Homo sapiens: one gene and its partners. Each later gene encodes a partner of the first gene's protein in a complex. Each region holds a gene or a part of one and is shown in the gene's direction. Other genes may lie near its edges. The genes, in order: LSM4, TXNL4A, PRPF4 and SNRPG.

Evidence for each region.
Region 2: LSM4 (region 1) and TXNL4A share a complex: the UniProt entries of both Homo sapiens proteins name them as parts of the precatalytic spliceosome.
Region 3: LSM4 (region 1) and PRPF4 share a complex: the UniProt entries of both Homo sapiens proteins name them as parts of the precatalytic spliceosome.
Region 4: LSM4 (region 1) and SNRPG share a complex: the UniProt entries of both Homo sapiens proteins name them as parts of the U4/U6-U5 tri-snRNP complex.

The regions. Positions count from the first base shown.
Region 1 is NC_000019.10:18,313,074-18,320,098, reverse strand, and holds part of LSM4 (U6 snRNA-associated Sm-like protein LSm4), read left to right. Parts: exon of another isoform or gene 1-582; intron 583-2,418; exon of another isoform or gene 2,419-4,033; coding exon 4,034-4,075; exon of another isoform or gene 4,076-4,430; intron 4,431-7,025. UniProt on the Homo sapiens protein: Plays a role in pre-mRNA splicing as component of the U4/U6-U5 tri-snRNP complex that is involved in spliceosome assembly, and as component of the precatalytic spliceosome (spliceosome B complex).
Region 2 is NC_000018.10:79,985,544-79,992,725, reverse strand, and holds the start of TXNL4A (thioredoxin-like protein 4A), read left to right. Parts: upstream 1-4,162; 5' UTR 4,163-4,333; coding exon 4,334-4,486; intron 4,487-5,975; exon of another isoform or gene 5,976-6,088; coding exon of another isoform or gene 6,089-6,124; intron 6,125-7,182. UniProt on the Homo sapiens protein: Plays a role in pre-mRNA splicing as component of the U5 snRNP and U4/U6-U5 tri-snRNP complexes that are involved in spliceosome assembly, and as component of the precatalytic spliceosome (spliceosome B complex).
Region 3 is NC_000009.12:113,278,651-113,285,675, forward strand, and holds part of PRPF4 (U4/U6 small nuclear ribonucleoprotein Prp4), read left to right. Parts: intron 1-294; coding exon 295-481; intron 482-3,995; coding exon 3,996-4,083; intron 4,084-4,481; coding exon 4,482-4,561; intron 4,562-4,738; coding exon 4,739-4,832; intron 4,833-5,644; coding exon 5,645-5,739; intron 5,740-7,025. UniProt on the Homo sapiens protein: Plays a role in pre-mRNA splicing as component of the U4/U6-U5 tri-snRNP complex that is involved in spliceosome assembly, and as component of the precatalytic spliceosome (spliceosome B complex).
Region 4 is NC_000002.12:70,283,716-70,290,740, reverse strand, and holds part of SNRPG (small nuclear ribonucleoprotein G), read left to right. Parts: intron 1-1,368; coding exon 1,369-1,391; intron 1,392-2,548; coding exon 2,549-2,673; intron 2,674-3,369; coding exon of another isoform or gene 3,370-3,480; exon of another isoform or gene 3,481-3,543; intron 3,544-7,025. UniProt on the Homo sapiens protein: Plays a role in pre-mRNA splicing as a core component of the spliceosomal U1, U2, U4 and U5 small nuclear ribonucleoproteins (snRNPs), the building blocks of the spliceosome.

The DNA.
Region 1 (7,025 bases):
CATTGCAGCCTGGGAGGGCCTGGGAGTCAGGCAGCTCCCTGTCCCGCAGCCACTCCTTCCCTTACCTGTGGGGTGGGGCGAGTGTTCTGCCTTCCCTGCATGCCTCCCTGGGTAGTGTGTGCATTTTTCTTGTGTATTTATTCAGCAAATATTTACCGAGTCCCTCTCATGTGCCTGGCCTTGTGCTTGGCCCTGGACAAAGTCCACACCCACTTTGAGTGTTCCAGTCTAGCGAGGGACACAGGTAATAAACAAGGTAATTAAAGACTGGCTGCATCCTATGATGGAAACAAACACCCATGAGGCAGAGGGTGGCCATTAAAAGGGCCTGGCCAAAGGAGGTGACGTTTCAGCAGCCTGGGGAAGGTCACCCCAGGCAGAGGCAATAGCAGAAGCAAAGGTCAGGTGGCAGGAATGGGTGTGGCGGCCAGTGTGGCAGAGCCTGTCTGCCTTGACTCTATAGCGGGCCTGAGGAGTGTTGTGAGAGTGGGTCTGCACCAACCCTATTTGGGTTTTTTGTTGTTGTTGTTGTTGTTTTTGAGATGAAGTGTCACTGTCACCCAGGCTGGAGTGCAGTGGCACAATCTCAGCTCACTGCAGCCTCTGCCTCCTGGGTTCAAGCGATTCTTCTGCCTCAGCCTCCCAAGTAGCTGGGACTACAGGTGTGCGCCACCATGCTTGGCTAATTTTTGTATTTTTAGTAGAGATGGGGTTTCACCATATTGGCCAGGCTGGTCTCGAACTCCTGACCTCGTGATCCGCCCACCTTGGCCTCCCAAAGTGCTGGGATTACAGGCATGAGCCACGGCGCCTAGCCAGTCTTTCTTTTGTTTTGTTTTTTTGTTTTTTGTTTTTTTTTGAAACAGTCTCGCTCTGTTGCCCAGGCTGGAGTGCAGTGGCGCAATCTTGGCTCACTGCAACCTCTGCCTCCTGGTTTCAAGCGATTCTCCTGCCTCAGCCTCCTGAGTAGCTGGGATTACAGTTGCCTACCACCACGCCCAGCTAATTTTTGTATTTTAGTAGAGGTGGGGTTTTGCCATGTTGGCCAGGCTGGTCTGGAACTCCTGACCTCAGGTGATCTGCCCGCCTCAGCCTCCCAAAGTGCCGAGATTACAGGCGAGAGCCTCCGTGGCCATCCCACCAGCTCTCTTTGTTTCTCAGATGTTCTTTCTGCTGCTTTTTGGATGGGACTGCAAGTGACAGGCAAGGAGGCCGTGGGTCCTCCCAGGCTGTGCTATTGGTCGCTGAGACCAGGTGGTGGCCCAAGAGGGTCTGTCACTGGCATGGAAGGTGTGTCTACAAGCTACCTGCCTCTGGGCAGCTTTGCCAGGGCCTTGCTGGATGTCCCTGGGCAGGTCACTTCTGCTGTGGGCGCTGGCGCCTCCTCTGCAGAATGAGAGGTGGGCCTTTAAGGGCTAGCCTGACCTCTGCGCCTTCCCTGGTGATCCAGGAGGAGGTCCAAGGTCCCGTTCCTGTTACGGACTAGAGAAAGAAAACAGGCTTGCTGAGGAAAACCCACGGCTTCTTCACAGTAAAGGGCGACCTGGGCATGAGACCCGTGTGCCAGTCTGTGGCTCCTGTGTTTTCTCTGTGGCTGGTGGCACCCAGTCAGATGCACACCCAGCCGCCCGCAGCCCTCCTCCCCTGCCTCTCCTAGCAGCTGCCCCGGGGCCACATGGCCCTTTCTTCCCCCTTATCTGGCTCTTCCAGGAAGCCGGTGCAGGAAGTGGGCTTGGGCCTGGCTTCCTGCTGGCACCAACCTCCCCTGGGCAGCTCTTCTCAGGAAGGGGCTGTGGGATGTAGGATTCCCTCCCCAACCCCTTCCTTTCATTGGGGAGCCACCCGGCCAGGGTTGAGGGCCATTTCCGGCCTCCACAGGGAGAGGCCTTCAAGTTCACACCACCTGGAAAAGCAGCCACACTGTGGATTAGGGTGGTGGCCAGGGCAGGACTCCCAGCAAAGGCATCTGGGGTCAGGGCCACCTGGAATTCCAGTCACCAGGACAGGGCTAGGTGAAGCCTGTGTCCCATGAGGCACTGTCTTGTCAGGGCCCCTTGGTGCTGGGGCCTTCCTCATGGCAGTACTAGAACGGGCATGTTATAGGACCCCGCACCCAGGCACAGCTCTGCGTTACCCGAGGCAGCTCCCAGCGTACGGGTTGAGTTTTCTGTTTCCAAAATGAAAGTGTTGATTTCCCCCCCAGTAATAGAAATACTACATATTTGACATAATAAAGAAATTCAGTAATGATGGAAAAAAACATCTTGAAACCAGGCGTGGTGGTGCATACCTATAATTCCAGCTACTTGGGAGCTTGAGATGGGAGGATTCCCTGAGGCCAAGAGTTCAAAACCAGCTTGGGCAATATAGTAAAAGCCTGTCACCATCAAAAAAAAAAATCTTGAAAGTTCACCTTACCTGGTGACTTCCTGTCTTTGAAAACCCAGTTCAGGGCCGGGTGCGGTGGCTCACGCCTGTAATCCCAGCACTTTGAGAGGCCAAGGCAGGCGGATCACGGGGTCAGGAGATCGAGACCATCCTGGCTAACACGGTGAAACCCTGTCTCTACTAAAAATACAAAAATAAAAATAAAAAAAAATTAGCCGGGCATGGTGGTGGGCGCCTGTAGTCCCAGCTACTCGGGAGGCTGAGGCAGGAGAATGGCATGAACCCGGGAGGCGGAGCTTGTAGTAAGCCGAGATTGCACCACTACACTCCAGCCTGGGCGACAGAGCGAGACTCCGTCTCAAAAAAAAAAAAAAAGAAAACCCAGTTCAGGCGGGGGGTGATGGCTCAATGCTGTTACCCCAGCCCTTTGGGAGGACCAGGCAAGCAGATCATTTGAGGTCAGGAGTTCAAGACCAGCCTGGCCAACATGGAGAAACCCCATCTCTACTAAAAGTACAAAAATTAGCTGGGCATGGTGGTGCACCCCTAATAATCCCAGCTATTTGGGAGGCTGAGGCGGGAGGATCACTTGAACCCGGGAGGTGGAAGTTGCAGTGAGCCAAGATCACACCACTGCACTCCAGCCTGGGTGACAGGCTTGCTTCCCAGGCTCAAGCAATCCTCCTGCCTCAGCACCCAAGTAGCTGGGACTACAGATGCGCACCACCGTGCCCAGCAAAGTTTTGTATTTTTAGAGCAAGGCTTCATCTAAAAAAATAAAAATAAAACCAGCTCAGATGTGGCCTTCTCTGATGGGATTGACCCCTGCATTGGGGCCTGGCAGTGTCAGTCTTGGGCCAGTTGGGGCTGCCCTGCAAGGCATGGTCTTGTGCTTGCTTCAGACAGACAGGACCAGGCCAGCTCTGTCTCCTCCTAGCGCCATAGTACTGGGCAAGTTCCTCGGGTTTCCAAGCTGTAGTGTCCTCAACTCCATACTCAGAGTAACCTCATCAACATGGATGCATCTCAGAGATACCAGTTTGAGCTTAAAATACAAGCATTAGGGCAGGCACGGTGGCTCATGCCTGTAATCCCAGCACTTTGGGAAGCCGAGGCGGGTGGATCACCTGAGGTCTGGAGTTTGCGACTAGCCTGGCCAACATGGTGAAACCCCGCCTTTATTAAAAATACAAAAATTTGCTGGGTGTGGTGACGCATGCCTGTTGTCCCCAGCTGCTTGGGAGGCTGAGGCAAGCTGCTTGTGAGGCTTGAACACGGGAGGTGGAGGTTGCAGTGAGCCATGATCATGCCACTGCACTCCAGCCTGGGTGACAGAGCGAGACTCCGTCTCAAAAAAAAAAAAAAAAAAAAAATTGACCAGAGTGTTCAGCACCAAGAGCAGGTGGTGGCCACCTACGGGAGTAGGGAGGGTGTGTGAGGCTTTTCTTCCTAATCTGAGAGGCAGGTGTGTGTTCCAGGGCTGGGCAGAGTGAGGAAATGGCATTTCCAGTGGGGGGTGATTGACACGCACTCCTGTGCCCCCTCAACCGCACCGCACCATCTATGAGTCATGGGTGGGACTCAAGACCAGAGCTCCCAGGCGCTGGTCAAACAGACAAATCATGTGGCTTTATTTGCCTTTCAGCTTCCCTTGTCACTGCTGAAGACGGCTCAGAATCACCCCATGGTGAGTACTCAGTGGTCTGGGAAAGCCTGTTTGAGAGGGGGCCAGCCTCAGCACAGGGGCGGTGGCTGAGCAGACGGCTTCCTGGCCTGCCTGTCCACCAGCATGGCAGTTTGCTCTCTTCTCCCTCCCCAGGAGTGTCCACACTCCTGTCATTTCTGCTGCTTGTAAGAGTAATACATACATACTTACTAAAAATTTAATGGGCCAGTTGCAGTGGCTCGCGCCTGTAATCCCAGCACTTTGGGAGGCCAAGACAGGAGGATCGCTTGAGCTCAGGAGTTCGAGATCAGCCTGGGCAAGAAGAAAAACTTAAAATTAGCCAGATGAGGTGGTGTGTGCCTATAGTCACAGCTACTCAGGAGACTGAGGCAAGAGGATCGACTGATCCCAGGAGTTTGAGGCTGCAGTGAGCTATGATCATACCACTGCGCTCCAGTCTGAGCGACAGAGTGAAACCTTGTCTCTAGAAAAAGAAAATTAATGAGGTGGAAGGATCACTTGAGCCCAGGAGTTCAAATCCAACCTGGGCAATATAGCAAGACCCTGTCACTTAAAAAAATAAAAAGAACTTCAGGTTGGGCATGGTGGCTCAGGCCTATAATTCCAGCACTTTGGGAGGCTGAGGCTAGAGGATGGCTTCAGCCCAGGAGTTCAGAGACCAGTCTAGGCAACATGGAGAAACCACGTCTCTCCATAAAATATAAAAATTAGCTGGGTGTAGTGGCGTGCACCTGTAGTTCCAGTTAGTTGGGAGCCTAAGGCAGGAGGATCACCTGAGCCTGAGGCGTTTGAGGTTGCAGGTCGCTGGGTGACAGTGAAACCCTGTCTCCAAAAAATGATAATATTGGCCGGGCGTGGTGGCTCTATGCCTGTAATCCCAGCACTTTGGGAGGCCGAGGCGGGCAGATCAGGAGATCGAGACCATCCTGGCTAACACGGTGAAACCCCGTCTCTACTAAAAATACAAAAAAATTAGCCGGGCGTGATGGCGGGCACCTGCAGTCCCAGCTACTTGGAAGGCAGAGGCAGGAGAATGGCGTGAACCCGGGAGGCGGAGCTTGCAGTGAGCTGAGATCGCGCCACTGCACTCCAGCCTGGGTGACAGAGCGAGACTCCATCTCAAAAAAAAAAGGATAATATTACATACTAACACTTCAGTTAAAGTGCACAATTTAGTGGCATTTGGTGCAGTCACAGGTTGTGTAACCACCACCTTTATCTAGGCCGGAACATTTCCGTCTCCACAAAAGGAAAGCCCATTTCCATCAGCAGTCACTTCCCAGCCCCAGTCCCTGATGAGCATGAGGCAGCTGCCGTCTCTGTGGGGTTGCCTATTCCGGATATTTCCCATGCATGCGAACGGAGACCATGAGGCCTTTCGAGCCTGGTGGTTGTCACTCAGCAACGTGTTTTTGAGGTTCATCCACCCTGTGGCCTGTGTCAGTGCCTCATTCCTTATAGCCAGACGATACTCCGTGGAGCGGATACTTACCACTTTTTTTTTTTTGAGAGGGAGTCTAGCTCTGTCGCCCAGCCTGGAGTGATCTGGGCTCACTGCAAGCTCCGCCTCCTGGTTTCACGCCATTTTCCTGCCTCAGCCTCCTGAGGAGCTGGGACTACAGGTACACGCCACCACGCCTGGCTAATTTTTTTTGTATTTTTTTTTTAGTAGAGACGGGGTTTCACTGTGTTAGCCAGGATGGTCTCGATCTCATGACCTCGTGATCCGCCCGCCTCGGCCTCCCAAAGTGCTGGGATTACAGGCTCACGCCCGGCCTACATTTTGTTTATGTGTTTGTCTGCTGATAGGCATCTGGGCTCTTTCCCCTTTTTGGCTATTGCGAACAGTGTCACTGTGAACATTCACGCACACATTTTTGTATGGTTGCCTGTGTTCATTTCTCTTGGGCAGATGCCTAAGTTGAGTCATTTAAAAATCTCAGCCCTGGTGGGAGGCCAAGGCGGGTGGATCACCTGAGGTCAGGAGTTCAAGACCAGCCTGGCCAACATGGTGAAATCCCCGTCTCTACTAAAAAATTAGCTGGGCGTGATGGCAGGCGCCTGTAATCCCAGCTACTTGGGAGGTTGAGGCAGGAGAATCACTTGAACCCGGGAGGCAGAAGTTGCAGTGAGCTGAGATCACACCATTGCACTCCAGTCTGAGCAACAACAGAGAAACTTCCATCTCAAAAGAAAATCTCAGGCTTGGACTGAGTGTGGTGGCTAATGCCTATAATCCCAGCACCCCGGGAGGCCAAGACAGGAGGATCACTTGAGCCCAGGAGTTTGGGACCAGTCTGGGCAACAGTGAGACCCCACTTCTACAAAAGGAAAAGAAATTAACCACATGTGGTAGTGTGCGCTTATAGTCTCAGCTACTAGGGAAACTGAGGTGGGAGGATGGCTTGAGCCCAGGAGGTTGAGGCTGTAGTGAGCCATGATCACGATACTGCACTCCAGCCTGGGCAACAGAGCAAGACCCTGTCTCATAAAAGACACCAAAAAATATCAGTCTTTTCCTAACAGCAGCATATCCTCAGAATGATCTGCTACTTATCTTTGTTCTCAAAACATACCAAAATAGATGAGTAATTATTGCAGTAAAAAACAGCATTTGTGGAACACTGAAGCCCAAATATCTGGTGTTGTGGGGGTGCCTGCCAGGACCAGCCCAGCTGTGCCCACCTGGCCCCCAGCCACCCTGGATCAGTGGCCACCATCACCATTGTCTCACTTATTCCTTTAAACATTTCTGTGTTTCTTAGTTTTTTGTTTTTTTAAGACCAAGTGGCACTCTGTTGCTCAGGCTGGAGTGCAGTGGTGCGATCTCAGCTCACTGCAACCTCCCCCTATCTCAACTCACTGCAACCTCCGCCTCCTGGGTTCAAACAGTTCTCCTGCCTCAGGCTCCCGAGTAGCTGGGACTACAGGCATGCACCACCATGCCCAG
Region 2 (7,182 bases), on another chromosome or scaffold:
ATTTACATTACCATGGCGAAATTTTAACAGGAACACCTTAGGGCAGAAATCTTGGAGCTCACCAGGAATTTCCTTGTGGGCAAAATATGGGGGAGGCGTGTAGGTTATCATCTTGCAGCCCTCTTATTTAGGAACCAAAAGGGGAGGCAGGTTTGCCTGACCCAGTTCCCAGCTTAACTTTTCCCTTTGGCTTAATGAGTTTGGGGTCACAAGATTTATTTTCCTTTCACAGTATGTAAGCCCTGGGTCTGGGAAGGCCCTGGGCCTGGGGGTGATGGTTGGGAAACCACCACCTTGTCTCACCACTGCCAGAGACACAGATGTGGCTTCTGTACATAAGTCCCTATTAAATGTTTCTCTCTAAAGAACTAGATTTGCCAGTCCCTTTCTTTGGCGTCTCAGCTTCCTCTGACTTTGGGGCAGATTTGTATAGGCCTGGCCACTGAGGAACAGTCACTAACCATTAGGAAAAGGCAAATGAAAACCACCTTATCATTTTATACCTACCAGTATGACCATAATACAAGGCTGTGAAAGGAAAGTATCTTGGGTCCCTTCAACCTGCCTCCCATTCTAGTCAGTCATCCCTCTGCTCACTGAGACAGATGCACAGCTGACTGTCTCCTTTGGAAAGGCTGATCAGAAACTCACAAGAATGCAACTGTTCATCTCTCACATATCTGTGACCTGGAAGCCCCCTTCCCGCTTTGAGTCTTCCTGTCCTTGCTTCAAGTTGTCCCGCCTTTCCAGACTGAACCAATGTTCTTCTTACATATATTGATTGATGTCTCATGCCTCCCTAAAATGTATAAAACTAAGCTGTGCCCCGACCACCTCGGGCACATATCATCAGGACCTCCTGAGGCAGTGTCATGGATGCATCCTCAACCTTGGAAAAATAAACTTTCTAAATTAATTGAGACCTGTCTCAGATTTTTGGGGTTCACGAGGTACATAAATAACAAGCATGGGCAAGAATGTGGAAAAACTGAAACCCTCACACATTCCTGGTGAGAATGTAAAATGGTGTAGCCAATTTGGAAAACAATTTAGCAATACTTAAAAATGTTAAACAGTTACCACATGAAAACTTAAGTCCACACAAAAGCTTGTACATGAATGTTCATAGCAGCATTACTCATAATAGTAAAAAAATGCAAACAACCCAAATGTCAATCAACTGATGGATAAAATGTAGTATATCCATATAATGGAATAGTTTCTAATTTTTTGTTTTATTTAATGAAATATTCATCAGCAATTAAAAAGAACTAGCTGTTGATGTCTGCTACAATATGGACCTTGAGAACATTATGTTAAATGAAAGCAGTCACAAACGACTCCATATTTTGTGTTTCCATCTATATGAAATGTCTAGAATAGGTAAATCTATAGAGGCAGAAAATAGATTAGTGATTGCCAGGGGCTGAGGGAATGGGAGGGAAATGGGAAATGACTGTTAATGGGTATAGGTTTTCTTTTCGGGGTGATAACATTCTCCTAAAATTAGATTGTGGTATTGGTTCCACAACACTGAAAAACCATCTCACCTTCAATTGGTGAATTTTATAGTATATGGATTAGATCTCAACAAAAGTTTTTTTTTTTTTTTTTTTTTGAGACGGAGTCTGGCTCTGTCGCCCAGGCTGGAGTGCAGTGGTACAATCTCGGCTCACTGCAAGCTCCGCCTCCCGGGTTCACGCCATTCTCCTGCCTCAGCCTCCCGAGTAGCTGGGACTACAGGCGCCCGCCACCGCGCCCGGCTAATTTTTTTTTTGTATTTTTAGTAGAGACGGGGTTTCACCGTGTTAGCCAGGATGGTCTCGATCTCCTGACCTCGTGATCCGCCCGCCTCGGCCTCCCAAAGTGCTGGGATTACAGGCGTGAGCCACCGCGCCCGGCCAAAAGTTTTTATTAAAGAAAAGATTTATCTGGAGATGGATAGTGGTGATGGTTGCATAATATGAATGTACTTAATGTCCTTAAAAATTAAGGCGATAAATCTTGTTATAAGTAACACAATAAAAAATGAGTTTCAATAAATTATTTGGGGACATTTGAGTCTTATGCCTTAGCTTGGAACAACTCTCCTGTGAATAAAATGCTTGTGATGTGTTAAGCAACTGTGTTTGTATCTGAAATGAGTGACTACCAAAATGACGGTAAGGAATTTTTTAGAAGGCAATAGCCTGACCTTAGTAAGGGCTCAGATTTCTCCAGTGTGTACCTGGTGCCAATGAAGTACAGGAGATTTTGTTTTATCATCCCATCTCATGGATGAGGAAACTGAAGTTTGTTGAGATAACTTATGCAAGGCACAGATGAACCTGAACACGCCTTTATGTAACTAAAACCCTCACTGTTAACCACTATGCTTATATTCTGTGCCTCTGCTTTACTCAATTATAAAATGAAAGAGATTTAGATGATCTCTAATATCCTACCAACCTGAAATTGTTTCATTACAATAAAGCATTTCGTATATAATTGGGAAATATTCTGTATTATGTAAAAAGCTTAATCTGGCAGTGAGCTGCACTTGTGATTCTAGTATTTAAATTGTGGGTGCATATTATCAAAGCACCTTATGGTGCTGTGTCCCAGAGGAAACCAAACATGGAACCCATTTCAATCCCCATGCCAGCAGGCTCTTCAGACTGTAGTTCTCACCATGCCACAGCCCATCTGAGAGACACCACAGCATCTGCATAGTGATTTGTTGTTGTTTTTGAGATGGAGTCTCACTCTGTCACCCAGGCTGGAGTGAAGTGGTGCGATCTCAGCTCACTGCAACCTCCACCCCCTGGGTTCAAGCGATTCTCCTGCCTCAGCCTCCCTAGTAGCTGGGATTATAGGCGGGCGCCACCATGCCCGGGTAATTTTTTGTATTTTTAGTAGAGACGGGGTTTCACCATGTTGGCCAGACTGGTCTTGAACTCCCGACCATAGGCGATCCGCCGGCCTCGGCCTCCCAAAGTGCTGGGATTACAGGCGTGAGCCACCGCGCCCGGGCGTGATTTGTTTTAAATTTGTCATCTAAAGGACCACCAGGATAGCTAGATAGTAGACAAGAGTTTTACTATCAATATCAGTTTGCAAACCAGGGAGTCTCCAGCATGAACCCAAAGTGCTCTCTCAGAAGAACAGAGGTTAGAGGTTTTATTTTAAAAAGAGAAATATTAACTTATTTCTCTTTGAGAAAGTTCACTGGCACTAGTAAGGGTTTGGGGAGCTCTGACTGGTGAGCGAAGCCAGGGGGCCAGATCAGTCCTGGAGGTGGAAGTTATGCTGAAGCTATGGAATAAAACTGGCTTTAGGTCGGGCGCGGTGGCTTCTTCCTGTAATTTCAGCGCTTTGGGAGGCCGAGGCGGGCAGATCACTTGAGGTCAGGAGTTCAAGACCAGCCTGGCCAACATGGTTAAACCCCGTCTCTACTAAGTACAAAAAAACACTAGCCGGGCTGGCGCCTTGTAGTCCCAGCTTATGGGGAGGCGGAGGCAGGAGAAGCGCTTGACCCCGGGAGGCGGAGGCTGCAGTGGGCCAAGATCACGTCACTGCACGTCTCAAAAAAAAATTTTTTTTCTTTATAAAAAGACAAATTAAAAAACCTGGTTTCAGGTTACAACAGGCAGCTCAGCAGCCGGCCTGATGGTGACATTCCTCAAGGACGGCCTGCCCAGTGCTTCCTCCCTACCCCGCTGCTCGACTCTGCTGTGGTTGGGTATGGCAACAACGACACATTTTTATGATCAAGTTTCACAAATGACACACATGAACTGTCTTAGTAACACACAGAAACAAGCACCAGAAAGGAAGAAAACGAGCCGCAGTGCCGGGCATTCCGGGCCTTTCTGGACGTCCCCATCCGTGGCTGGAGGACAGCCCGGGCGGCGGCGGGCGGCCTCGGGGCGGGAGCGTGGGGGCAGGGCACGGCGAGCCCGGGGCTTCTCAGGACCACCAGGCCGCCTGGACGCTGGGGAGGAACCCCCACTCCGACAGCTGCTATGACGGAACCAACGGCGCTCCACGGTGCCCAGGTCGCCGCCGCTCCACCCGGCCAACTACACGTTCGCGCGGCGCCTATACGCACATGCCGTCAGCACGCACGGCGCTAGCGCGCGCGCATGCCGTCAGCACGCACGGCGTCGGTGCGTGCGCGCCCAGACGTTCTGCCGGGTGGCAGTCCCAGCGGAGTTTGCGTGTGCGGGCGGGACCGGATTTCGTCCGTGGGCCCGGGGGCGGCGGGGGCCGGGGAGTGAGGGGCCGGCTGAGCCCACCTCGCTGGGCCCTCCCTGGCGCCCCGCCTTGGGCGGCGGCGAGCGCGCGGGCCGCCATGTCGTACATGCTCCCGCACCTGCACAACGGCTGGCAGGTGGACCAGGCCATCCTCTCGGAGGAGGACCGCGTGGTCGTCATCCGCTTCGGCCACGACTGGGATCCTACGTGCATGAAGATGGACGAGGTCCTGTACAGCATCGCCGAGAAGGTAGCGCGCCGGACTCTCCCGCTCTGCGGGCTGTGCTTCCGCATCTGCCCCGCGCCTCTGCCCTGCCGGCGTCGCCTGGGGGCGCGAGCTGTTCCCCGAGGAGGGGCCGCGGCTCCGTCGTTCAGGCGATTCCTCCCCTCGCTGCGGTCGAGCGCTCTCGGGGACTGTGCCGGCGTTTCACGCCTTTTTCTGCGGGGAGCTCTTGTAGTTTTTCATATTTTAAAGGGTTTATGATCCCCCTCCTCTCAAATGAATTAATTATTTCTGTTGATAAGGCGTTTTTCCCAAACTTATAGTTCAGTGAACAAAATGCACTTGCAGGTTTTATTGAGAGCGCGGATCCTTAATTTAAAAGGACGTCTTTTTTTGGTACCTGAGTTATTCGTTGTATGCATAAAGCAGGACTTTCATGTTCATAGCATGAGAAATCCTGCTTTTCTGTGGGTGTGTTTTTTTATCCCACCACGCTTTTTGTGAGTCATGTGGTTTACAGCTTACAGTGATTGAGGTGCAGTAAACATCAGGAGAAAATAGAAATATGCTTTGTTAGAATTAGTTCTCTGAATTTCTAATATTAGTACACTGAGTGGTCTTGGCATTTACTTGCTGACAATAAAAGTTGTAGGACACTATTTTATAACCAGATTTCATTCTTTTTCTGTGGTTCCTCATAGCAATTTTAGGATGACTTTTATTGAGGTTTTGCAGCTGTAGCAATAGGGCAAAGGGCACAAATACTAGGGTGTTAATAAAATATTTGCCATATTAATTTTCCATAAGTAATTTGAGAGGTTATTCCTTTTAATGAAGAGTAAAAGTAACATTGAAGCTATCTTTTCTTTCACAGATGCTAAAAAGTAGGCCTGGGTTAAAATAACTCCTTTGAGTAAAGAGTAACAGATGTAAGGACATATTTTATATTCAGGAAAGGAAAGACTATCTGGCCTGCCATTTATTAATTTTTGCTATTTCTTATTTAGTAGGAGAGGCATGAAGTTAGGAACTGTTGTTATATTTTAGTTATTACAAGACTCCCTTGGAGTGCTTACTAGAATGCATCTGTGATTCTGATTCTATGGGTATGGGGTGAAGTCCAGCAATGGCTTTTTAAAGAAGCCCCTCAGGGAATTCTGATGCGACTTGACCTTGAACCACCTTCCATGGGGGTCAGGGATGGAGGTGGAGTAGCTTTAGTACCAGCCATCTCGCAGCCTCTTCCTCCTGGACACTGAGGACTTGAGGAGGGACCTAGGGAATTCGGGAGAGCAGCAGTTCTCTCACACGCTGGGGGTTCTGCCAGCCGGGGATTAGAGATGATGAGAGAGGCAGTGCCACACATCAGTTTGTCATTGCTTGAGCTGTAGTGGACAAGGGCAGATACTGGAAATCCAGCGAAGAATTGACTAAGAGCAGTTTCCCAATAAGTAAATCACTGCTGTATTGACTTTGAGTTATGAATTCTAGAATCTTTCACTGTTCTACATTGCAGGTGGTGGCATAAACATCGGGTGGTGTTCAGATCCTGCTGCCGGCAGCTCGAGGCTAGGATGGCTGGAGATGTGAGGGCCTTTGTCTCATCACATCCGAGCACAGCTCAGCAAGATGCTCTTAGCTAGAAAACAGATTTTATGTGTTAATGTAAGTGTTTAGGGTCTTTGCCAGATTTGCTCTTTTCCAACTCCTTTATGTCCAATTTCTTTGTTATTACAGAATGAATCACTGTATCACTAGTGGACACACATAGTGGACACACACTTAAGGACAGTTGAAATGGGCTCACTTTGGGGTATTTTTTTTGGTCTTTTAAAATAGTCTGATTTTTGTTTTTGTCCAAAAATTTGGATAGCTTTATTAATAAACTTTTAATGCGAATATTATAATATAGTTATTAAAAGGGCAAACCTAGGCCAGGCGCGGTAGTTCATGTCTGTAATCCCAGCACTTTGGGAGGCCAGCGTAGGCGATCACTTGAGCCCAGGGATTCGAGACCAGCCTGGACAATATGGTGAAACCCCTTCTCTACTAAAAGTACAAATGCCGGGCGTGGTGGCACGTGCCTGTAGTCCCAGCTACTTGGGAGGCTGAGGTGGGAGAATCACCTGAGCCCGGGAAGTCAAGACTGCAGTGAGCCATGATTACACCACTGAACTCCAGCCTGGGCAACAGGAGTGAGACTCTGTCTCCAAAAAAAAAAAAAGTGCACACCTGAAATGCATTAAAAGAATATTCATGTTTTATTTTCTTCTTAGTCTATGGGCAAATATGACTTCCTAATTCTGGAAGCCCTTTTTTGGAGAAGCTCAACAGAAATTTTTGAAATATAAGGTTTTAGTATAAAGAACAATATAACTATTTAAAAATTTCCCTGTGCAGAAATGGCAGATAATGGGGACTCTTCCTTACCTTGTTCCGAGTTCTGTCTGGATATTCCAGCTGTTTTAAAGTGAGTAACAGTTGCAAATGTTCAGGCTGGACTTGATATGATTTTTCCTAGATGTGTTGTATTGATTTGCTGCTTCCACAGGGCCCACTTGACTTCATGCTGGATTAGAGTTGAGCTGTAAACTTCAGGAATAAAGTCAGTTTGGAAACAGAGCTATGCTTAAAAGATTTCACAGATGCCTAGAGTTTGCTAATAAATGTGGGGCAATTCATTTGATAAAGTGATAATAATAAATAAAGTTTTCATCTGGGCA
Region 3 (7,025 bases), on another chromosome or scaffold:
TGCAAAAGATGTTCTGTACTCTTACTTGCTGGTCTCAGCCAAAGTGTGTGTTTATATAGGCACAAAGTTAATAAATGAAACAAGAGGTGGCTTGAACCATTTTCTTGCCTTTTGAAGCTGTGTCATTTAGGTTTATGTGTTTGGCATAATTTAATAAACTGAAAAACAGTAAACTATAAAATGTGTAATAGACAGTTACTTTTCCCTCAGGGCATACACAGACTGCAATTACTAGAAATTATTTCTCTCTATTTGAAGAAGATCTGCTGATGTTGCCTGTTTTCTTTTTAATAGGAGAAGTGTTTGAAATTGAAGAGCATATCAGCGAGCGACAGGCAGAAGTATTGGCTGAGTTTGAGAGAAGGAAGCGAGCCCGGCAGATCAATGTTTCCACAGATGACTCAGAGGTCAAAGCTTGCCTTAGAGCCTTGGGGGAACCCATCACACTTTTTGGAGAGGGTCCTGCTGAAAGAAGAGAAAGGTTGCCTTTCTAAATATTTACTTTTTTTCTTTATTATAATCACAGGGTTCTACTCCAAATTTTGGTTGATCATTTAGTTGAACTTTAATAGAATGTCTCAAATCATGTTAACAATATCTTACTGTGTTTATATGAGTTAGCCCATAATCTGTCTTAGGCCAATTTTTACCGCACTATTAATGTTTCTTTTTTGTGTTTGTTCGTTTTTGTTTTGTTTTGTTTTGTTTTGTTTTGTTTTGTTTTGTGTTTTGAGACAGAGTCTTGCTCTGTCACCCAGGCTTGAGTGCAGCGTCGTGATCTCGGCTCACTGCAGCCTCCGCCTCCCGGGTTCAAGCGATTTTCCTGCCTCAGCCTCCCAAGTGGCTGGGATTACAGGCACCTGCCACCACATTTTTCTTTTTTGTATTTTTAGTTATTTTTTATATTTTTGTATTTTTAGTAGAGACAGGGTTTCACCATGTTGGCCAGGCTGGTCTTGAACTCCTAACCTCAAATGATTTACCCACCTTGGCCTCCCAAAGTGCTGGGATTACAAGCGTGAGCCTTCGTGCCTGGCCCGTTTTTCTTTATAGACTTGGAAGAGGGTGCTAACATGCTCCCTTGCCTCCCCTCCCCAGTGCGAGTTTTGAATTGGATAAACATTTGTTGTTGGGCTTTGAAAATTGAGACATCAAATGCATTCCATATCAATGACATAGAACAATGATAAATGTTTCTTGGATTTTATTGAAGAGGGGTACCATCCTCAGATAATGCCCTCTTGTTATTTGCAGGTTGCGAAGTCTTAGTTGTGGTCTAGTCACACACAATTATGAGGAGCCCCTCTGGTCTCTCTGTCCACTGTCTCATCTACCCTTCATCATCCAGCTTGTTGGAAGGGTTTTTTCTATTACTCCCTTGAGGTCCTTACCCTTATTTACTCTTCAACCTGCTGCAAACTGACCAACCCCTACCACATTAAAATTGCTCTTTGTTAAGATCACCAATCCACCTTTACTAAGAATAGCCCTAGTATACTGCCAGCCACTCCTCCTTGAAATACTCCCTCCTTGAACTACTCCCTTTCCTTCACTCTCCTAATAACAAATCCTCTTGATTTTCCTCTTCTCTCACTAGCTAATTCTTCTCACTTACCTTCTAAACCTCTTTTTCTCTGCCTGCCCTTTACAGGCTGCCTTTTTCTCTACTTGCCCTTGGTGATCAGCTCTACTCCCATGGCATCATTCACTGTGTGTTCTGATGATTCCCAAATCTCTCACTGCAGCTTAGGTATCCCACAGGTACTTCAAACTTGAGACATCTGAATTGAAATATTTCCCCACCTCTCTCCTATACTCATACAATTCTTAGTTGAAAATCTGCCTAGCCTCCTTTATAATCCATTAGCAAAATCTGGTCTGTTCTACTTGCGAGATACAACTCCAGCTATCTTCTTTGCTCTATCTTTACTGCTTTCAAATCTGCACTGTTGTGATAGCCCCAAACATGTTGTGTTAATTGCTTGCTTAAAATCCTAGATTGTCTTCTCATACTTGGAGTAAAAAACTCTTACCATGGTCTGTAAGGTCTTCAGCCTTACTCATGTCTCCCTTCCCCAATTTACTAGAATAGCCACATTGGTCCTTATGGAATATGCTAGTTCTTTTTATGTCTTTCCACATAATTGGTCTACTTTTATTCTTCTGTCTTGTCTTTTAGAGGCTTTTTTTCTTCCTTTTTTTTTCTTTGAAACGGAGTCTCGCTCTGTCACCCAGGGTGGAGTGCGGTGGTGCAATCTCAGCTCACTGCAACCTCCACCTCCCAGGTACAAGCCATTCTCCTGCCTCAGCCTCCCAAGTAGCTGGGACTACAGGCATGTGCCACCATGCCTGGCTAATTTCTGTATTTTTAGTAGAGACGGGGTTTCAACACGTTGGCCAGGTGTTGAACACCTCCTCAAGTGATCCTCTCAACACCTCCTCAAGTGATCCGCCTGCCTGGGCCTCCCAAAGTGCTGGGATTACAGATGTGAGCTACCGCGCCCGGCCTTTCTTCTTCATTTTTTATTAACCTGGATCCCTGTCAAACTTCTTATTCTTTCGTTTCAGCATAGATGCCACCTATTCAAAGAAGCCTTTCGTCACACCTAACCCCTCTGTTCTCTGTCATAGTATGTTATTTTATTAGCCTTTTCAAAGGGTATACTTTTTTATTATTGTTTAGTTTGTTTTTTCCACCAGCAAAGTCTATCTTATTCATTATTATGTTCCTTAAATGAATCCTTTGAGTCACTACTGCTACTATCTGAATTTCAGTCCACGGTTGTGACTCAGAGCGTCACTACAACAGTACTGTCTGATTTCCCTGCCATTATTCTTCCCTTTTAATCCATTCTTTGTACTGTTTCAGGGATCTTTCTCATCTGTAAATCCTCCTGAGCGTGGCATTAGCAATTCTTTGTGACCTGGCTCCTCCTTGCATTTGCAGCCCTATTCTTCACCAGTCCTCTTCTATGTTCTACGCTCCAGCCATATTGAATTATTTGTGACTGCAAGCTCAACATGTTTTTCTTACCTCCAGGCCTTATTTGTTTAACCCTCTGCCTGACATTTTCTCATTCTTGACCCCCTTGACCTGATTAACTGAGGACTCAATTTACATATTACCTTTTTTTAATGAAGCCTTCCCTGATCCTCTAAGCTTAGTTAGATGCCCGTTACAAAGTCCCCTCTAGCCCTCTGTGCTTACTGCTATAGTGATAGGTAATATAATGGATTATAGTTTGCCAGTACTCTCTGTTGTTTCCCCAGGACTAAGCTACTTGAAATCAAGAACTGATTCCTAGTCATCACTGTATAGTTAGCACCTGAGTCAGTATCCAGTACATTGTGGCACTGAGTGAAAGTTGGCAGTCTTCACAGACCAAGTGGTAGCAGTGTAGGGGCTCATTGACTCTAAACTGTATAGAGTAATTGCTTATAGTTGAATTTTGGAAATTTCCAAATAGAGAAGACTGAGTGGGAGAAACCACACTGGGAGTTTAGCCATCCCCACTTGACTCTTAAAGAAGGTTCCTGGAGGGCCGGGTATAGTGGCTCATGCCCGTAATCCCAGCACTTTGGGAGGCTGAGGCAGGAGGATCACTTGAGCCCAGAAGTTCAAGACTTGCCTGGGCAACATAGCAAGCCCTTCTCTCTACAGAAAAATTTAAAAATTAGCCAGTTGTAGCAGTGTACATGTAGTCCCAGCCACTCGGGAGGCTGGAGTGGGAGGATCGCTTGAGCTCAGGAGGTTGAGGCTGCAGTGACCCATGATCATGCCACTGCACTCCACCCTGGGCAACAACAAGACCTCATCTCTTAAAAAGAAAAAAAAAAGGTTGCTAGGTGGTTTGAACAGTGAGAGAATAGTAAAGGCTTGCTCCCATCTTAGGGGAACTTTAATAACAGTGTTTAAAACTGTGTTAAAGTGTACTTTAAAAACAGTATTATCTCAACCATGTTTAAATTCTGATCTTTTTTTTTTTTTTTAACAGGTTAAGAAATATCCTCTCAGTTGTCGGTACTGATGCCTTGAAAAAGACCAAAAAGGATGATGAGAAGTCTAAAAAGTCCAAAGAAGAGGTAGAACATGTCTTTAACTTCACAGTATAAACATGAAGGAAATGAGGGGATAGGTCTCTCGTTTTCTGCTTTCAATGGTTTGTTTTGCTGAGATGTTGGGGGAAATGTTTTTGAAGGCTCTACCATTCAAGAAGAGTTGCTGGCAGTAGTTTTGGTTCCTTTGTAAGTATGAATGGAGCTAAGTGAGTTTTCCAGTCAGGAAAGAATCATGGCATTCCTGGTATAACCATGTAGTTACATATCATAGAAAAAAATTCAGTAGAAAGTCCTCTGCCTGATTTCATCCTATTACCGAATGAATTCACCTTCCTTCTGGGCAGTTAAAATGGAGAAATGACAGTTATAAGAGGAGTAGAATGCTTCAGATTTGACCTTTCTGCTCTTAATTTGCCTTTCAGTATCAGCAAACCTGGTATCATGAAGGACCAAATAGCTTGAAGGTGGCAAGACTATGGATTGCTAATTATTCGTTGCCCAGGTAAAGAGAGCCTCCAGTAGAAGAAAGAAGCATATTTTTTGTGTGTGTTTCCTCTCAGGAACTGAGTGCTGGATAATGACTATGGTTGTTAAATGAAATTGAGGGGTAGAGTAGGGATACATGTGGGTCCTTGTTTACAACCCTGTTGCTCCTGGTGATGGTGTTTCTGTGTCGCAGGGCAATGAAACGCTTGGAAGAGGCCCGACTCCATAAGGAGATTCCTGAGACAACAAGGACCTCCCAGATGCAAGAGCTGCACAAGTCTCTCCGGGTAAGATGCTCCCAGCAATTGTCCCACATCTTAAAGGTTCTTCATGTTTATTTGATTTTTCTACTTTGGCTCACCTCTGGGAAGGTAGAGGCAACTAGAGTGATTCCTCCCTGCTTAAGTTGAGCTGCTGTGACATGGAAGGAGCCATCAGTTAATGTGGCAGGAGCTTACTGTGCTTTGTATTCAGCAGAGGCCTATGGTTCTATTCTTTATTTCTCCCCGTTAATATGTCAGAGTTTCTCTGGGGTTTTCTGTTTATATTTAGCTGACTCAGAAGTTGTGATCCTAAGACTGTAGAAAACATCTGGGCACAGTGGCTCAGTCCTGTAATCCCAGCATTTTGGGAGGCAGAGGCAGGCGGATGACTTGAGCCTCAGGAGTTTGAGACCAGCCTGGTCAACATGGTGAAACCCTGTCTCTACTAAAAATACAAAAATTTGCCAGGTGTGATAGCATGTGCCTATAATCCCAGGTACTTGGGAGGCTGAGACGGGAGGATTGCTTGAACCCGGGAGGCGGAGGTTGCAGTGAGCCAAGATCACGCCACTACACTCCACCCTGGGCAACACAGCAAGACTCTGTCTCAAAAAAAAAAAAAAAAAAAGACTATAGAAAACAGCATGCTGGAGTTTCATATAACTTCATTTATCAATGTATGTGTCTTCTAACAGCAGCAACAAAACCATAGAAGAATCTTGGGATGGGTTAAAACTGAAAAGCTGCTTTGTTGTTCTTTTTATGGTGGAAAAGCAAAGGAGCTCTTAGATTAACCTATTAATGATCACCGTGTGTGTATTTTTTTTCTTTTTAAGTCTTTGAATAATTTTTGCAGTCAGATTGGGGATGATCGGCCTATCTCCTACTGTCACTTTAGTCCCAATTCCAAGATGCTGGCCACAGCTTGTTGGTAAGTTCCATTTTACAATGACATTTTTTCCTAAATGGGGAACAGGCTCAGGAAGAAAATTAGCATTTGCGTTAGACGTCTATTTCTACGTCCTCTTTCTCTGCTTCTCATGATCACACCAAACTACAGATGTCAGTCAGTGCTCTACCTGTTGTATAATACAATGTAGCCTTGGTTTAGCCGTTCTCGCTCTTCACCAGTGACCCCAGAGATCCATTACACAAAGCACTCTGTCACATTCTTGACACTAGTATTTTGGAACAGGTCCTGTAGTGAGTTTATAGACCAACTAGTATCCATAACTCAGTCTGGCTTTTCTTTTTCAGTTATGTGACCTCGCTAAGATACTTAATTTCTGTAAGCTTCAGTGTTCTTACCTGTAAAGTGGGATGAGGTAGTGTTTGCAAGGCATTTTGCCTTGACAGTGCCTGGTATGTAGTAAGGACTCGTTAAACGTTAATTATTGGTTTATCTTTGTTTTATTTTCTTATCACCACATATGCAGAAAACTCAGGATGTGGTAACTTTGTTGTTTTGTTTGAGTTTGGTTGTGTTTTTCTGTGGGACATGGCTATCTAATGAGAAAGGAAACTTAGATTGAATACACAGGAGCTACTTGACTAGGCTGACCTTTAGATGGGTTCAGGAGAAAGCCAAGGTTCTGCACAAATGAGTCCACCTCTCCAAGCCTCATTACCTTCACTATAAAGTTTGATCGTTCCTGCCGTACCTGCTTCACAGGTCTGTTAGAAAGATCATCCGAGATAATAGATATAAAAGTAATTTGTTGAAAAATTTCCAAAATAAGAAGTCTCTAAAAAGTTTAAGGCCAGCCAGCCATGGTGGCTCACACTTGTAATCCCAGCACTTTGGAAGGCCACGGCAGGAGGATCACTTGAGCCCAGGAGTTTGAGACCAGGCTGGGCAACAATAGTGAGACCCTGTCTCTACAAATTTTTTTTTTTTTTTTTTTTTTTTTTTTTTTTTTTTTTTTTTTTTTTTTTTTTGAGACGGAGTGTCACACTTTCGGCCAGGCTGGAGTGCAGTGGCGCGATCTCGGCTCACTGCAAGCTCCACCTCCTGGGTTCACGCCATTCTCCTACCTCAGCCTCCCAAGTAGCTGGGACTACAGGCACCCGCCACCGCACCCAGCTAATTTTTTGTATTTTTAGTAGAGACAGGGTTTCACCGTGTTAGCCAGGATGGGCTCGATCTCCTGACCTTGTGATCTGCCCGCCTTGGCCTCCCAAAGTGCTGGGATTACAGGTGTGAGCCACAGCGCCTGG
Region 4 (7,025 bases), on another chromosome or scaffold:
GTGCTGGGATTACAAGCATGAGCCACCGCGCCCAGCCCATAAATATATTTTTACTTGTAAATGTATCTACTCCCTCCTTCAGTCATGCTCCTTGTTTTATATTTACATTTTCCCATGATAATCCTATACATTAAAATTGAATAAGTGCCCCACTTCGTGGCCCATATACTAAACATCTTTTTTTCATTTTTTTATATTTTAAAATTTGAATGAAATTTTTAAAATTGAATGAAATTTTATGTTTTCTGGCCTATATGGAAGAAATTAAAAACTGATTTGACTGCATGGCTTAATCTCGTATTCCACTAAAATGGAATTTTTTTTTAATTCATATCGTTTGAAGTTTCAAATGTGCATTTATTATTCTAAAATATACTTAAATGTTGAGGACTACCCTGAACATTTATGCTTGATGCTTTAATATTAAATAAAAGAACACTACTTATTTCAAATATAAAATACCTATTGAATTGGATATGATTTGATTACTGTTTGCTGTCTTTACAACTTAGTTTTGGAAATAACCAAACATAGGCAAGTCTTTGTTTTTCTCTTGTGACTATAAAATCCAGTCATTGAAAATTAGGTCAATGAGACCAGATGTGGTAGCTCATGCCTGTGTAATCCCAGCGGCACTTTGGGAGGCTGAGGGGGAGTATATTTTTCGAGGCCAGGAATTCAGGACCAGCCTGGGCAACATAATGAGACTCCCATCTCTTAAAAAAAAAAAAAAAAAGAAAGAAATTTAGGTCAATGAAACAACGTAGTATTGAACAATAAGAATGTAATTCACATTAGTATACTCTACTTAATGTAAATTAATATAGTCTAAATATGTTTCATTTTTATTGCCTTTCCTCTTCCCAAATTACTTTGCTTCCTAGAATGTCTAATTTAGGTAACCCTTTACGCCCCCACTCTTTTTTTCCCCTGAGACAGTTTCGCTCTATTGCCCAAGCTGGAGTGCAGTGGCGCAATCATGGCTCACTGCAGCCTCAACGTGGCAGGCTCCAGTGATTCTCCGACCTCAGCCTCCCAAGTAGCTGGAACCATAGGCATGTGCCACCACCCCCAGCTAATTTTTGTATTTTTGGTAGAGATGGGGTTTCACCATGTTGCCCAGGCTGGTCTCAACTCCTGAGCTCAAGCAGTCCACCCGCCTCAGCCCCCTAAAGTGCTGGGATTACAGGCGTGAGCTACCTCGCCCTACTCCCTCACTCTTTACAGCAATACATTATTTTTACTATTTTAGATTTCATTATTCCCATTGTATAAATTTTAGCAAATTATCTTAACTATACCTATTTACTTGTTTATGCTTAAATTTTTTTAATTGGTTATATAATCTTTACCCTTTTCCTTTTTCAGATTTATGGACAAGAAGTTATCATGTAAGTTTGTTGTTGTTTTGGGGTTTTTTTTAATTATTTAATTGCTTTTTACATGTGTCTTAGCAATGTTTGGAGCAACTTTATAAAAATTTAAAGCAGCCAGGCGCGATGGCTCACGGCTGTAATCCCAGCACTTTGGGAGGCCGAGGCAGGCGGATCGTGAGATCAGGAGATCAAGACCATCCTGGCTAACACGGTGAAACCCCGTCTCTACTAAAAATACAAAAAAAAATTAGCCGGGTGCAGTGGCGGGCGCCTGTAGTCCCAGTTACTCGGGAGGCTGAGTCAGGAGAATGGCATGAACCCAGGAGGCGGAGTTTGCAGTGAGCCAAGATGGCGGTACTGCACTCCAGCCTGGGCTATAGAGCTAGACTCCGTCTCAAAAAAAAAAAATTTAAAGCACACAGGACCTCTAATTCACATCCGTTAGTTAAGCAGATTACTTAATCCTAACTAGACAATTTTATTTACCTAATTTCTGATAATTAATTTAACAGCACTTCAGACTTTATCTTATGTAAGCCCTTCCTCACTTTGGCAAAATTAACAGGATTTATCAACCTTTTTTCTTTAAACAAGCTACAAAGGACTTAGACAAGGAACAGTTATCTTGTTTCTTGGGAATATGTAGGAATAACATTTGTTCAATTTATCTAAAAATCTGACCCACACAGTACTTGAAATATATGTAGGGGAAAAAACCATGAGCGTTAGAGGTAAGCAGCCTTCAGCTTGAATCTCACTTCTGTCGTACAGTAGCTGTATAACCATGAACCCAGTTACTTAAAAGCTCGGGCACGGTGGTTTACACCTATAATCCCCCAGCACTTTGGGAGGCCAAAGCGGGAGGATCCCTTGAGCCCAGGAGTTCGAGACCAGCCTGGGCAACATAGGGAGCCCCCATCTTTATAAAAATTTTAAAAAAGCTCTGAAGTTTAGTTCTGTCCTATAAAGTAAGGATAATACTACTTTTTAGGATTCTTATAAATTAAAATGTGGAAGTAAATACAAAAATGTTTAACCCAGTTCTTGTCATACAGTAAGGATAGTGGGTTTCAGACATCTCAAATACTTGTGTTTTATCCCACCTGATTTTTAGTGAATGCTTGGTAGCTAATGGAATGTTTTTCTAAAACTTCTTTTTCTCTTTTTAATAGTGAAATTAAATGGTGGCAGACATGTCCAAGGAATATTGCGGGGATTTGATCCCTTTATGAACCTTGTGATAGATGAATGTGTGGAGATGGCGACTAGTGGACAACAGAACAATATTGGAATGGTGGTAAGTAAAGATACAAGAGTTCTCTTGGAGATTTCATTTTTCTTTTGGAATGTGTATTAACTTTCCTGGTTAGTAACCCCCAGAAATGGCAAATAACAGGCAAGATTAGACTTTCCATCTCCTTTTTAGTTGCATACGGCAGTTACTCAGCTGTAGTAATATCCTGGTTACCTGTAGGTAAGATCTCAACTATACAGAACCTAAGGTCCTAGCGCTTGAAATAGCTGTTGGAAATCCTTTTTGAGCTTTATTCTGCAATAGAGGCTCATAGTTGGTCCTTCATTAGAGCAGTAGTTCTGAAACCTTAATGTGTATATGAATCCCCAGGGAATCTTCTTAAAATGAAGATTCTACTTCAGTAGGTATGGGGCAGAACTTAACTAAGGTTTTGCATTTCTACTAATGCCTAATGCAGATCTGCCAGTTCACAGGTAACACTTTCTGATTTTACTTGTATACATAGTTAACCTGGATTTTCTGGTTTACCACACCCAAAATTTTAAGGTAGCCAAGGTAAAAGTTACAAGGGATAATCACAATGACAGTTATTCACATGAGAGAAAAAGCAGGAAAAAATAAGCACATACTGAGCCCTCATAGGATTAAACATTCCTACATTCATTGGGCCGTAGTTTTAGTGATTGCTGAAGAAGAGTTTTGATACCCAGACTTTGAGTCCCTCTTTGTCTAACACAGGACAACATACCTAATAAAGCGGTAAGCCCAAAGTTCTTGAAAAAGGTGAACCAAAAAGGACAACTTACTTTTAGCAAATTATTAAGCATAAAGACCTCCAAGGAGTGGTAAGAGTTGCTAATTATTAGCCTTGATTTATTAACCTTGATTTTTAAGTTTGAGCAGTAAAGTTGAAGATAGACCTATTTTGACATCTCTGCCTGTTTAATTTTTTTACATACCATTCTTTCCAAGGTTTGTGTTATTACTTATTTCAGATACTTTTTCATTACTGTATTTTGAAAAGCAAATCAATAGTTATGACTGAAAAAACAGTTTAGAGTCTCCAGATACCACACTGTACCCCCAAGTTTCATGTAAATTGACTTGTCTTTCAGGTATATTCCCTTGTGAGCTTCTGTTGAATAAGGCTGCCAGCATGATTAGTAGCCAAGTCCTTTTAAAAACATTTTCTAGATACCCCAAGATTTTCCTCTCAGCCCTTATTTTTACAAATAAATTTTCATTCTAATAGAAGGTAGATTAGGTTTTTAGTTCCTTGCAAAAAATTTGCTGAAAAGGATTCAGGAAGAACTTGGCACCTAATTGTCAATTCTGCTTTGAGAAGATTAGAGAATTATGTAACACACTGCTCATTGGAATTTTATCAGAGAAGGAATAGAGCATCCCTCTGGCAATTTTCCCCCTAAACTTTATGGACTTTATTTTCTTTGCACAGAAATTGGTTGAAAGCACTGCCATCCCAAGTCATTTAAGTAATGATTACCTACTTAGTGTGTTGGGCAGCCTCCTGTTCCATCTCTGAGGTTTATGTGACACACACGCCCCCCAACCCCCAGCCAAAGAAAAAAAAAAGTTTTTATCAGCAGACAGTAATTCTTGCTGCTGAGTCTTCACTTTGAAAAAGAAATAATAACACATCAGACTTCTTTAATAAAAGACATTTTAAAAGGCAAGAACAGAGATGAACTTTTTGACTTTTCTAAAGTTGGAAGAAGGGAAACAAATAGGTTAAGGTTTTGTTATTTTGTTAGAAGTTGTTTAACAAAGGACAGTTGGCTTCATTATTACCTTGTCCAAGTCAGTGATCCATTGAGGCCATTGAAATTACTTAATACTGTTTTATTGCAGTTATGTGTGTGTTGGCTGGGCACAGTAGCTCACATCTATAATCCCAGCACTTCGAGAGGCTGAAGCAGGAGGATCACTTGAGCCCAGGAGTTTGAGATCAGCCTGGGCAACATAGTGAGACCTCATCTCTACAAAAAAATTAGAAAATTAGCCGGGCATGGTGGTGTGCACCTGTAGTCCCAGCTACTCAGGAGGCTGAGGCAGGAAGTCAAAGCTGCAGTGAGCTGAGATCACACTACTGCACTCCAATCTTTGTGACAAAGCGAGATCCTGTCTCAAAAAGGATGTGTTTGTTTTCAGGAGTGAGTTTGTTTTTAACCTGTCAGTTGGATCGTTACCTAATGATAAATCTCAACTATCTTCTGAGACATCCCCAGAGTTGTCAGTGGCATCGCCTCTATCTTACTTTTTATTATGTTACATAGTTCAGGCACTCTTGCTAGGGTTGTCCTTCTGTAGCATCATTGAAGCACAAAAAAGGGAGCAGTATGTAATTCTGGACCTGATGGTTCAAGTTTGATTTGGAGAATTAGGCCTCAAACACAGTGGCAAAAGAGGAAGAGCACTACAATAGGCCTCCTTTATCCTCAGAGTAGGTACCAGAAACCACAGATAGTAGTGAACCCTATGCACAAATTTCTGTGTGTGTGTGTGTGCACGCGCGTGTGTATGACAGAGTCTCACTGTGTCACCGAGGCTGGAGTGCAATGGTGTGGTCTCGGGTCACTGCAACCTCCGCCTCCTGGGTTCAAGCAGTTCTCCTGCCTCAGCTTCCCGAGTAGCTGGGACTACAGGCGCACACCACCACGCCAAGCTAATTTTTGTATTTTTAGTAGAGACAGGGTTTCACTATGTTGGCCAGGCTGGTCTCAAACTCCTGACCGCATGAGCCACCTGCCTTAGCCTCCCAAAGTGCTGGGATTACAGGCGTGAGCCACCGCGCCTGGCCAGCACGAACTTCTTTTTACTTCTTCACAATCTCACAGATAGAAGATTCGTCCTTACCATAAATCTTGGCAGTCTCAACATATGATTCTTTTTCTTATTAAGTCAAGAACTTGTACCTTTTCACTTAAAGGAAGCACTTTACAGCTTCTCTTTGGCATATCCATATTGCCAGCATCACTGCTCTTATACTTTCAGGCTAGTATTAAGTTAAAAAAAGGGTTACTTGAACACAAGTAACCCTTTGATACCACAACAGTCAATCATAAAACTGAGATAACTGATTAATGGGCAGCATGGAGATGCTAGACAAAGGATAATCCACATCCAGGGACAGTATGAGGTATCATCACACTGCTAAGAACAGCATGCAGTGTAAAACTTACGGATGTCTGTTGCTGGGACTATGCATTTAATGTTTTTGGACCACAGATAAGGTGGGACAAAGTTCACCATTTAGCCTTATTTTCTAAATATTATGTGACAAGACAAATATGTAAATTTAGCAGGGAGCTAGGCAGGAAGGCTAGCTTTTCTTGCTTTGGTCAATGAGATGTGATGTTCAATATCTGTTGCCAAAAAAAAAATTGAGAATTTAAAATTCTGATAACTGGCCAGGTACAGTGGCTCACACCTGTAATCCCAGCACTTTGGGAGGCCAAGGCAGGAGGATCACTTGAGACTAGGAGTTTGAGATAAGCCTGGGCAACATGGTGAGACCCTGTCTCTACAGAAAATTTTAAAATTAGCCCAGCTTGGTGGCTCATGCCTCTGGTCCCAGCTACTTGAGAGGCTGAAGTGGGAGGATCACTTGAGCCCAGGAGGTCAAGGCTGCAGTTAGCTGTGATTGAACCACTGCATTCCAGCTTGGGTGACAGAGCAAGACCCTGTTTCAAAAAAAATAATAATTAAAATGAAAATAAAATTCTGATAACTAGGTAAGCATGTTTCTACTCCTGGCTTATGCTGGGCATGGTGATGTGCGCCTATAGTCCCAGCTACTCAGGAGGCAGAGGCAGGAGAACCACTTGAGCCTAGGAGTTCGAGGATGCAGTGTGCAGTGATTGTGCATGTGAATAGCCACTGCACTGCAGCCTGGTCAGCATAGCTAGTCCCAGTCTCAAAAAAATGGAGGGGAGCTCTGTTAACTTAGAAGAAGAGTGTCAATCTTTAGACTCTTTCAGTTCCCATTGTCATTTTCAGGGCACTGTGTTTACTGGTTTTTGTTGTTGGTTTGAGATAAGGTCTCACTCTGTCACCGAGGCCGGAGTGCAGTAGCATGGAGCTTGGTTCACTGTGGTCTCAACCTCCCTGGGCTCAGTTGATCCTTCCACCTCAGCCTCCCGAGTAGCTGGAACCACAGGTGTGCACCACCACCCTCAGCTAATTTTTGTATTTTTGTAGAGACAGGGTTTTACCATGTTGCCCAGGCTGGTCTCAAACTCCTGGGCTCAAGCTATCTGCCCACCTGGGCCTCTCAAAATGCTGAGATTATAGGCGTGAGCCACCATGCCCAGCCATTCTTTTTTAAATCTGCTCTTTACTACCTTATCATACTCATTGCTGATAATTGGCTGCCA